Linked DNA regions of Homo sapiens: region 1 is linked to region 2. The links come from fine-mapping of genetic effects on gene expression. A gene starts in region 2. The other region holds a variant in brackets. All regions are shown on one strand. Distances are between the middles of the regions.

Region 1 (5,383 bases), 430 kb before region 2:
TTCTACCCTAGAATGTTCACACTGAATGGACTCAACAAAAGTTCGTTATTACTAGGAAGAAAGATAACCAGAAGAAGTAAGTACTGAATGCTATGCTGAGTTACTGAAATAGGTTTTGGGATTTCTTTCTCTGGGATAAGTTATTGATTAAACACATATTGCTGTAGCTTCTCTGAAAGAAAAAGAAAAGCTGTAGCTTTTCTGAAAGAAAATTTTTGCTTAACATATCAGTTTCCTAAGTTGACAAACCCAATGCTCATCAATAAAATACTGAAAAATATTTAAATATAATTTTGTGTGTTGATCAGTGAGGACTCTATATGTTACTGGAGTCTTGTTGGTAAGAGTGATAAATGCCAGGTGTGTCAGGAAGAAAAGAAATCAACATGTAATAAAATTTACTGTGTGCCAGGTATTACAGCAGGCATTTTCACATATTTTATCTAATTTAATCCTCACAACAATCTTGTAAGGTAGTTATTTTCATTATTTATAGATGAGCAAAATGAGGCTTAGTAACCTTAAGCTTCTGGCCTAAGGCCAAAGACCTAGGAAGTGGTGGGGCTAGGATTATATTTCAGGACTTCAACTTTGTATTCACTTTCCACTTCATCAGAGGGAAATTAATGGTCATTTCATGCAAAAGAATAAGAAACAATTTCAAGAATAAAACGTATAGCTGAATTTTCTTCTTTCTGTTTTATCTTCCTCTTTACTAAGAAATAAAATTGCCACTGATTCTACTTCTACACCAATTAAAACCATGTAGTATATAATGCAAGGAGGATGAACTTGGGGTCAAAAGTCCTAGAATGCATGCTGGTTCCTCTAGATACTAGACATTGGGTGACCTATTTCCTCTGATTCTCAGTTTCCTTATCCACTAAATAGAAACAGAAGAAAGAGCACGGGGTTATGAGCAAGTGAGATAAGGCTTAATGGATTGCTTTGTAAACTTGGAAGTAACATGCAACATGAGATAATATAAGTGTCATAATCTTGTTCATGGTGTAAAAGTTACCGTTTTGTGAATCACAAACCTAAATGTAAAACTTAAGGCTATAAAACTTCTGTAGGAAAATAGGAGAACATCTTTGTTACCTTGGGTTAGGCAAAGATTTCTTAGATACAACACTAAAAATATGATCCATAATAGAAAAATGATAAATGAGGCTGCTTCAAAATGAAAAATGATTACTCTTAGGATGTTTGTTTACAGAACAAAAAGACAAAAAACAGACTTGGATAAAATATTTGCAAAATATAAATCTCTGTCCAGAATCTACAACAATGCAATACAAGTAGGAAAACAACGCAATTTAAACACCAAAACCTTGAACAACCCAAATGTCATTCAATAGGTGAGTAAACAAATGGTGGTAAATCCATACAATGAAAAGCTAATCTCAATAAATGGAATGAACTACTCACATATGCAATAACATGAATGAGTCTCAAATGCATTTTCTAGTGAAAGAAACCAGATGCAAAATCATAGATATTATATGATTCCATTTTTATGAAATTTTGGAAAAGGCACAACTTTAGGGCCAGAAAACAGATTAGTGGTTTTCAGGGCTGGTGACTAAGGAGACACAGACGACAAAGGCACATGAGATAATTTTGCAGAGTGTTGGAACTGTTCAACATCTTGATTGTGGTAGTGAGCATATCACTGTATACATTTGTCAAAACTCATAGAACTGTACACTAAGGACGATGGACTTTCATTTATGCAAGTTGCACCTTCATAAACCTGGCTCTAAAACAAATTACTATCATTTTGGATGCATGCAAGTATGTGTATGTTTGTTGTATGTGTGTGTGTGTGTATCACACATACATAATTTTATATATATATATATAGAGAGAGAGAGAGAGTTTTTTTTTTCTCCTGAAGGATAAACACACAAAAAACTGGTTAAAATTGTTGTCTCCAGTGAGGAGAACTGGGAGACTGGGAGATAGGGGTAGAAAGAAGATTTAATTTTCATAGTATACGCTTTTTGCCATTTGAATTGTTTACTACTATATACATGAAATAAATGATTTAAGAATAAATAAAAACATCAAAGATTATCCGACTTGGCTTCTTGCTCCTCTTTTGAGGACTTCTCAGCTGCTAGGAGTTTAATCATGGGCTCTATGGCCAATCTCTGGGAATGCTAATGAGGGTCCTGCTGCTTTAGGTGGAAGGTTTCACTTGATCTTCTCCACCAAACCCTAGTATCCAAACAGTGGATTCTGAAGTTCTGACAATTCTAATTTCGTCAATTCTTCTGAGAAGTAACCATCCTTTCCTGTTTTTCCTCATGCTACTTAGGTTACATCTTCAGCAGTGACTGATATTTTCTTCATATACCTGCCTCTATTCATCCCTGCACATCACCTACAATACTGCCAATATTCGCTTTCTAAAATAAAAAAGCACATCACTCCTCTGCTTATAAGCATCCACTGCTACCCTTTGCTTATAGAGTCCTTAGGCTGGATCACAATGCCTCTCAGAACTTGACTCCAATCTGTCTTTCCATTCCATTCTTCTATTCACCCCCTCCCATGCTCAAAGCAAAAGTAAGGGTCTGTTCCCCAAATGTGGATCTTTCAACACATTATACATTGTATTTACTATATGTCTCCACTTGAAATAGGTTTTCCTTTATTATGCATTAGATAGACTCCTATCACACCTGAAGACTCTGCTTAAATATAATCTCCTTGGTGAAATCTATAATTTCCCCCACTTGTAGTTCCTGTTCAGTTCCCTCTGCTCCCATAGTGCTGGATGTATAGTACTATTAGGTCATTTATCATGATTTATTCCAATTTCTCTCTTTAAGGGTCTGATTC[C/A]ACAGGGAGACACTGAGCTTCTTGAGGACAGGGCCCAAGGCTTATACATCTCTTTGTGTCTGGCAGAGTACCGGAGACATCAATGGTTCTCTCTCACATCTACATACTCTGCTATGTAAAAGTGCAAATGCTCACGTATACACATCTACACACACATATTTCTTGAATGAAAATGTGAATGAGTTCCAATGTCACATATGTGGACGTTAAAGAAAAAATAGAAATATATTTGGACCTACCAGCTGGCATCCCCAATCTCTTACCATCTTGGAATGTGTCATTAATTGCAATGACTGCCTGGAAGGGTTTGGTCAGTTCGGCTCCTTGTGCTGAGCTGAGGAAAACCACAAATGTCTCCAGTCCTTCAATTACCGGATACTGAGTGTCATCCAAGATAGTCAAGGTGCAATACTAGAAGAGAAACCAAAGCAAACTTGACAGAGGACCCACCATCTAACACCCATTTACCTTGACTAGGGCAAAGGTCACAACTTGCCTGTCTTTGGTGGTTTTAAAGTAAGATTTTCTAATCCATAACATGATGATCTCTTTATTACATGCCACTCGGAGTTTGTTTTTAGATGTTTATATCAAATGAGTATAGTTTATATCCTGAATCTGTAAGGCTGGATATTTGATGCTAAAAATGTCACTAGGAGAGTTTTTAGAAGATCCCCTCCTAAGTTAACTCTCTTGTTTATGTATGTGTGTTTTTAAAGAAAGGAAAGATAGGAATATCGCCAGGGGAGTTTAGAGAGCTTGGGAAGCAAACTAAAGACAACATTCACAAACCGACCTGTCAACTTTGTGGAGTCTCGACTGCTGTAAACGCACCTGTTCAATGACACCAGGCCCAAATTCCACCTTCCGAGAGCTGGGAACGTAGTCAACTCCTGGTGTGGCAGAAGCTGGGTCTGAGGGCCGCGTTGCACACCAGACAGATGCGAAAGTAGAGAGGTCAGTACCATGGCGGATAACTGGAATCTTTACTGTGCCTGAATTAAGATTCATAGAGATTTTAATGGTCAACTTTGAGCCAGAAAATCAGCGAGGTTTTCAGAATGATGTTCTCCCTCACTGCAATAGTGGCAGCTTTTAGCCCTTTGAGCTTTTCTAATCTAGCTTCAGTGATGCTCCTATGGCCCATCTGAGGTGAAGGCCTAGAGGTGTCACTACCTGTCTTTTCACTGACACTAGGATCAAGAGGAGACCTAGAGAAGGGCTTCATGGAGATGGTGCTGGAGAGAGCCCTTAGGGGAGAAGGCTGTTGTGGCTTCACAAGGGAGACTGCTCACAGGAGAACAATGCACTTAAGGAGAGAAGGGTCTATTGCAAAACATCTCAAGCCTATTTAGGGAGAAGAAACTTAGAGCCTGGGGCCTCAGGGATGTGTCAGAAAATAGTCAATTAAGGAGGACCCAGCTAGGGGACTCTATGGAGCCTGAAGCTGAATGTTTCTAATTAAATGTTCCTAACTGAGTTGATTTCTCTGTTTTACCCAAGCACATGTCATGACTTAAACCGCATGTGCTTATTACTCATCTTAGGAATGAAGCTCATCTTCCTGTCCACTGTGACATCATGCTTTGTAGTGTCCTAAGGATATTTAGCTATTTTCACAATCAAGGGCAGAGAAAAGCTTCATGAAAACCCTACAATTTTCAATCACCACATTTTCTAGCCAACATGCTGTGAGATGCAATGTAGTTATGGCTGGGCATTTGCTGTATGGGAAAAGAAACATGCTATAGTAGAAAGGTCTGGCTTTGAATCTAGCCTTGCCATTTTATTAGCTGCTTAATCATTGATGACTGACTTAACCTATCCAGGCCTCCATTTGCTCTTTTATATAATGTTCTCTCTTCCATAGAATATTAAGTGAGAATGCATGGAACATGCACGGTATGGTGCCCGGCATTCGGTAAGTGCTCAAAAATACCTGTTCCCAGTGCTCCTCCAAATCCCTTCATAGATGTGAAAGGCCTTGATCTGGCCCAGATCAGGAGACACTCAGCACAGCTGTTGCCCCTCTGCCAGCAGTATATCTGCCTGCAGCATACATAAGACTTCAAGACCTTTGTGGAGCCACAAGTGGGAAAGGAGCCTGAGTCTCTGAAATACCATGTGAAAGTGACCTGCCCACTGATCGCTTTGGGCTCTTACATGAATGAGAAAGTTTCACTGTATGAAGACACTGAAACTTTGGAGAGTGTTCAGGAGCTAGCAGTACACTAAATACTTCACTTCCATCCTCAATATATCACATTCTCCCCTTTCACAAGCCCAGATGCTCAGTGCCAGGCCCTCCCTCTGGACCACAGAGGTCAGCCCATGAAGCTCTAGGCTCTATGCCACAGCCCTGCCTGCCATCAAGAACCAGAGTAAAACCTTCTACACTCTATCTCCATGACCTCAATGATTTTAACCTTTAGCTCCCACAAATAAGTGAGAACATGTGAAGTTTGTCTTTCTGTGCCTGGCTTATTTCACTTAGCATAAGGACCTCCACTTCCATCCATGTTGTAGAAGGATG
Region 2 (5,383 bases):
ACTGCCCCCTGGTGAGCTATCCGGGAGTGATAGCACGTTTCCTGCGTTGCTGGGATAGGACTCTAAATTTTAAAAACTGCCACCAAGTGAAATTAATTTTTCTAAGTACCAAGTTCAGGTTTGGGTGGCCTGGGGTGACTCTCTCATCTGGTTTATTGTTATAATCAAGCCCTACAAGCTTTTTTTTTTTTTTTCCAAAGTACGCGCCCACACGCACATAAACAATAAAGTTATATTTCTACAGGACTTGCACTGTTGGGAGAAGGCTGCACAGGCCCCAGATGTGCCTTTCGCGGAGATTATACACACTTGACACACATCCCGGAAGAGTGCAGAAGGCAGCACCTGGACCCACGGGAAAGTCCCCCACCCTTGTGCGTGGATTCCCAAGGCCTTTCTCTTGGGAAGCCAGCAAAGAAAAGGCAGCTGCTCCAGTGACTGGAGGTCGACCCGAGGCAGAGCTTTGTCCTCCCCGGGCCTCCCGCAGCCCCCAGTCCTGCGCCAGAGCTCGACTCCCGGGAGCCGCCCCGCGCCCCTTCCTAGGCACCAGGGCGGAGAAGGCGGCCCGCCCTGCGCCCGCCGCCGCCGCCCAGCCGCGGCTCTGGTTTGCGGCTGGGCAGGTGAACTCTTCTTCCCGCAGCTGGATGAATAATGAATGGAGCCGGGAGGGGAAGCCGAGAGCCAGGCGCTGTGGATTAAGCCGTCTTCCTCCCAGCCCGCCGGCTCCCTTCCCCCTCCCTAAGCACTGGCGGGGCGACTTCCCTGGCTCCTCGGAGCAGGAGGGAGCTCACAGCGCCTCGCGTCCCCAGGCCCGGCATCCCATGACCCCAAACTCTTGATTTACTTATTGACTCATTTATTTGGCTGAGCCCGGATTGCATTTGATATCATGGCGACAACTAGTCTCACGGCTTCCTTTTCTCTCCTGCGGCTCCGGGGTTTTACAGGTAGCTTGGAGCCTCGGAGGAAAACCAGGAGGCGGAGGGTGAAGTAAAAGAATGAACCTAAACTCTTATTAACCACTTTTGTTCTGGGAAGCAGGCTGGTTCGTGCTTCTCCGTACTGGAGAGATTTCTTTCAGTGCAACTGAACTGCCCACGACCAGAACACGCTCCAACCAGTTAGTTATAAAATCCTAACTGGACTTTAGGGGGAGACTAACTGAGGTAAGGAGGGCGGGAGAGCGATGGGGCTTTAAGATGAAAGACTGTATGTTTCTTAGGAACAGAAGTATTTTTAAACAGGTAAGAGCAATTGTTCGCTCCTCACCTGTGCTCCATGCAGTTGCTTTCCCTTCGGGGAAAGGTAGGTGGTGGAAAGAAAAAGGATCAGTTTCAGAGATGTCACCTCCATCGGCCACCCACCCACCCAAAAGCACTTAGGGCAGAGAGGGAGGCCGTTTCGGGGGTGTAATCCGAATACAAAACAATCAGGAGTAGGAATCTTATCAGAAAAAGCCTATTCCAGTTTCACTTCCACCTCACCCTTCCCAGAAAAACTTCCACCTCACCGAAATACCATAAAACCTGCTGAGATTTTTAAACTGCACGATCACTCACACATACACACACACACGCACACGCACACACACACACACACGCGGCACCGCTCTCTCACCTTCGGAATGATGAGGCAATACTGCAAATTCCGCCAACGCTAGGGCCAGCCCGAGCCACACTTTGAGGACACCCATCGCCGCCTCGGCACCCACGATGGAGGAGCCCAGCCTTCAGCATCCAAGAAGCGGCTCCGCCAAAACGCTGGCTCCGGCGCTTGGAACCCGGGCGCACTGAAGGTGGGGGACCGCGGGCCTTTACCTCCGGGAAAAAGAGATGGACGGGCGGAGAGCGACACTCATCAGCCCGGAGGCGCCGGAGCGGGCTGGGGTTCAATTCACTCGCTGCTCAGGCAGAGAGCGCGCCGAGTTCCCCCGCAAGGCAGGACGCCAACGTGAGCTTTGGGAGAATAAGAGGAGGCAGAGCACAGTTCTCCGCGTCAAAATCTCGCCGGAAAGTTGCTGGTCACTGGCCGATGGGATCTTCCAGCATTTCCCTCGGGCTAGACCCTTCCGATCCCGGGTCCCCGACAGTGGAAATCCTGGCTCTGGTTTGTCCGAAGCAGCTTTTTAAAGTTCGCTTGGCACCATACGTCGGCGTTGCGTCGGCACCGCGGGTCGCCGGGAGCCCCGAAAGACCCACCCACACCCACTCCTTGGTCGAGCCACCCGGCTCGGCAGACCTCATCTGCCGGGGTCCGCTCGCTGGAAACTGTGCAGCGCTGAGGGCAGCTCCGGGGACTCGCCCGCCCTGCAGCCGCACCGCACCACACCGCCTCAGGCTGCGCTCCCTGAAGCAGACTGTTCGGAAGCTTCAGAGGAAAGACTGGGGGGCGCTGCTGCTACTTTCTCGTCCCCGCCCCTCGCCTGGGTGAGGAGGGCTGCGGGGACGCGGCTTGCTGCACACCAACACCCACCTCCGCGCTGAACACCCCGGAGGAGGTCTGCAGGGTAGAGGTGCAATGATTACGGGAGTGGAAGAAGAGCCATAATTTTAATTGCACGGAGGAAAAAGCTAGCGAGGCTGGAAAAGACCCCCAAACTCAAGGCCACTCTGGCGAGAGAGCCTGGAAACGCCCAAAATACGCCGGGTCTGGACCCCGTGTTTAAAGGACACACGTTCAGCCTTCCTCTAGTCTCCCTTGCCTCCTTCCTCTCTGCTTTGCTCGGTGTGAAAATGGACCCAGAGACTCGGAGCTTTGGCGAAATTCCAGAGAGTCACGTGGGGAAAGGGAGAAGCGAGGAGGGAGGTGAGGGGAGGCCGGGAGAGCAACCTGATCCCTTTATTCATTCTGCTGGAGTTCAGATTGGCTTTGTCTGGGGAGGAATCAAAAGTGCTCATACCGGGGACGGAGGGGGTGGAGATAGGTTGCACAGTTCTTGCTCAGGCACACCGGAAGGCAGATGAACCGTGTCCACATCCCTTGTTAGGGGAGGAACCGATTCGGCGGGCTGGGGGAGCGTGTGCCCACATCAAAGGCCCTGGGGCTACCTCCCACCCCCACAGCCCGCCACTCCTGCTGAACTAAGTGCGTCCGGGGGACCTGATTGATCCTTCTTCCTCGCTCTGGGACCCTCAGGCTGTTGCATCCTGGCTTTTACCAGCAGCCCGGGAAGATCTTGGTGTGTGTGTCCTAGGCGGAGCCTGAGAGCAAATGCACCTTTCCCTTTCCCTAGGAGACTCTGTCAGTGGAACACAACGCGGTCTGGGAGCTGTGGGTCCAGCTGCGCCCCCAGATGCCAATGGCTGGGAAAGTAACATCAGGACACGGCCGACTGGGGCGCGCACTTGAAGAGCAGAGGCCTTGATTCCCCGCCAGGACTGACTGACGGCAGCTATTTTTATAGGACCGAATAAAAATAGCTGGTCCACGTTTAATCGTTTTATAAGGGAACAGTTGCATCAGAGAGATGCTGACTGGGTTCTGATTGGCCCAGAGAAGAAACGTCTCGGGTCCCTCAATTGAGTCGGGATGGGCGAAACTGTTGGAGGGGAAGCAGTTGCATGAGCTGTGCTGGCGGGGGTCCCACTTGTTTCCAGTCTTCACGAACACCATGACGCGGGCCCACGTTCTAACGTGCACTGACGCCACTTGGAACAATTCACTTTTCCGAATAACTGGAATAACTTGAAACTGGCAGGTCCCTGTCAGTGTTACTATTCAGCCAGAACAAAGGAGAACCTCTGACAACCTGGCTCTGAATCTTAAGTATTTGGAGGACCCAGGGTTTGCACATTTCGCCCTCAGTCTCTCTGTTGGGCTGTGGTCATTCTAGGGACAGAGGTTGTATCATCTTTGTATAATTGAAGCACATAGTAGGTGCTCTTTAAACATTTGTTGAAATAATGGATTAAGTGCCTGAGAGCAGCGGCCATATCAAGGGGAGCTGCGGGCCTTAACCTCCTCCCAAAAAAAGACCCCTCCCTTTTTATTTAGAAAGTAGGGCCTGTGCGGTGGCTCACGCCTGTAATCCCAGCACTTTGGGAGGCCAAGGCAGGCAGATCACGACGTCAGGAGTTCGAGACCAGCCTGGCCAACATGGTGAAACCCCATTTCCACTAAAAATACAAAAATTAGCCACGTGTGGTGGCACATGCCTTTAATCCCAGGTACTCTGAAGGCTGAGGCACGAGAATCACTTGAACCCGGGAGGCAGAGGTTGCAGTGAGCAGAGATCTCACCACTGCACTCCAGCCTGGGTGACACAGCGAGACTCTGTCTCAAAAATAAAGGTCGGGCGGGGCGGGGGGGTGGAGGACATCTTCTCAATCCATGTAAAGTGATGTGCAAATTCAAACTCAGCTTCCAACACACTCTGACAACCAGACGGTCACCCTTAAACCCCCTCCTAATTTTGCAGCTGCTACTGAATGGGAGTAACTTAAACCGTTTGTTCTCTCAAAAATCAACAATTTGATTTTATTTTAAAAATCAAGCTGGGTGCAGTGGGGTGCACCTGTAGTCTCAGCTACTCCAGAGGCTGAGGCGGGAGGATCACTTGAGCTTGGAAGTTGGAGGCCATGGTCCACCCTGATTACGCCTATAAATAATCACTGCACTCCAAAAATCATACAATTATGGCACAGGTCTCAATAAGATATCTGTTATACTTGCTAATTGCAAATATGCTACTTTTCAAAAAGGAAAAGCAATAAATAAAGGGAGAATAGCACTACCAAGTTACCCTGAATTAATCATATGCTGTATTTATTGGATTTATATATAACATCCCCCCTTGACCACCAGTCCACCACAGGGGCACATGCTGGCCCACTCACATAGTCCTCCCTCTGCCCTAAGTAGTCAAGGGAGAAGGCAGCCTGAGTCCTTGCCCTAAGATCACTTGGAAGAGCAAAGGGTCAACCAATATTTCTGTAATATTAGGCATATCTAACACCTATGTTCACTTCAACTGAAATGTTGGAAAAAGAGATTATATAAACCTAACATATTTCATTATGATGAAAATTTAGTAAGCATGTTTATGGAGATGCACCTAATCATAACTAGCTTATCTCTATAAGTTAACCTCCACAAATGACAGCTTCATGCTTCCTCATAGGAAGTTGGCAATTCACTAGCCAGAGATATTTGGGTCTATATCTTCAGTCCTCTTTAGTTACAAGTCCAGATTCCACAACTTTTGTTAATATGTTCCACAATATCTCCTTGGATCAGCCCTGCTGTCATCTCTTCACAACTCCCTGTCCTTGTTGCTGCCCATTTTGGGGAATTTATTTATCAACTCCTGCTGTAAACGATAATAATAACAATGATAACACATATTGAATATTTTGTGCCTAACACTGTACACTTTCTCATGTAA

Which allele goes with the higher level. Positions count from the first base shown, and alleles are read on the strand shown. Sizes are in standard deviations (SD) of each study's normalised expression.
For the expression in fibroblasts of the gene that starts at base 2,380 in region 2, allele C in region 1 goes with a higher level than allele A (small effect, 0.24 SD a copy in GTEx).

The links. PIP is the estimated chance that this variant, and not a neighbour inherited with it, causes the effect. A credible set is the group of variants that fine-mapping cannot tell apart.
Region 1: its variant is the best candidate, but not a certain one, in a credible set for the expression of FRAS1 in fibroblasts (GTEx, PIP 0.84).

Annotation. Positions count from the first base shown.
Region 1 is chr4:78,480,266-78,485,648 of GRCh38, reverse strand. FRAS1 (Fraser extracellular matrix complex subunit 1) reads right to left here. Exons shown (of 74, transcript NM_025074.7): 57 at 3,685-3,845; 58 at 3,114-3,261. Among named protein-coding and RNA genes, the nearest start is that of ANXA3, 69 kb to the left of the region's middle. RefSeq lists an enhancer at 3,354-4,553. The variant C/A (reference allele first, on the strand shown) is at 2,851.
Region 2 is chr4:78,054,320-78,059,702 of GRCh38, reverse strand. FRAS1 (Fraser extracellular matrix complex subunit 1) reads right to left here and starts at 2,380. Exons shown (of 74, transcript NM_025074.7): 1 at 1,618-2,380. The coding sequence starts at 1,693. RefSeq lists an enhancer at 2,823-3,794.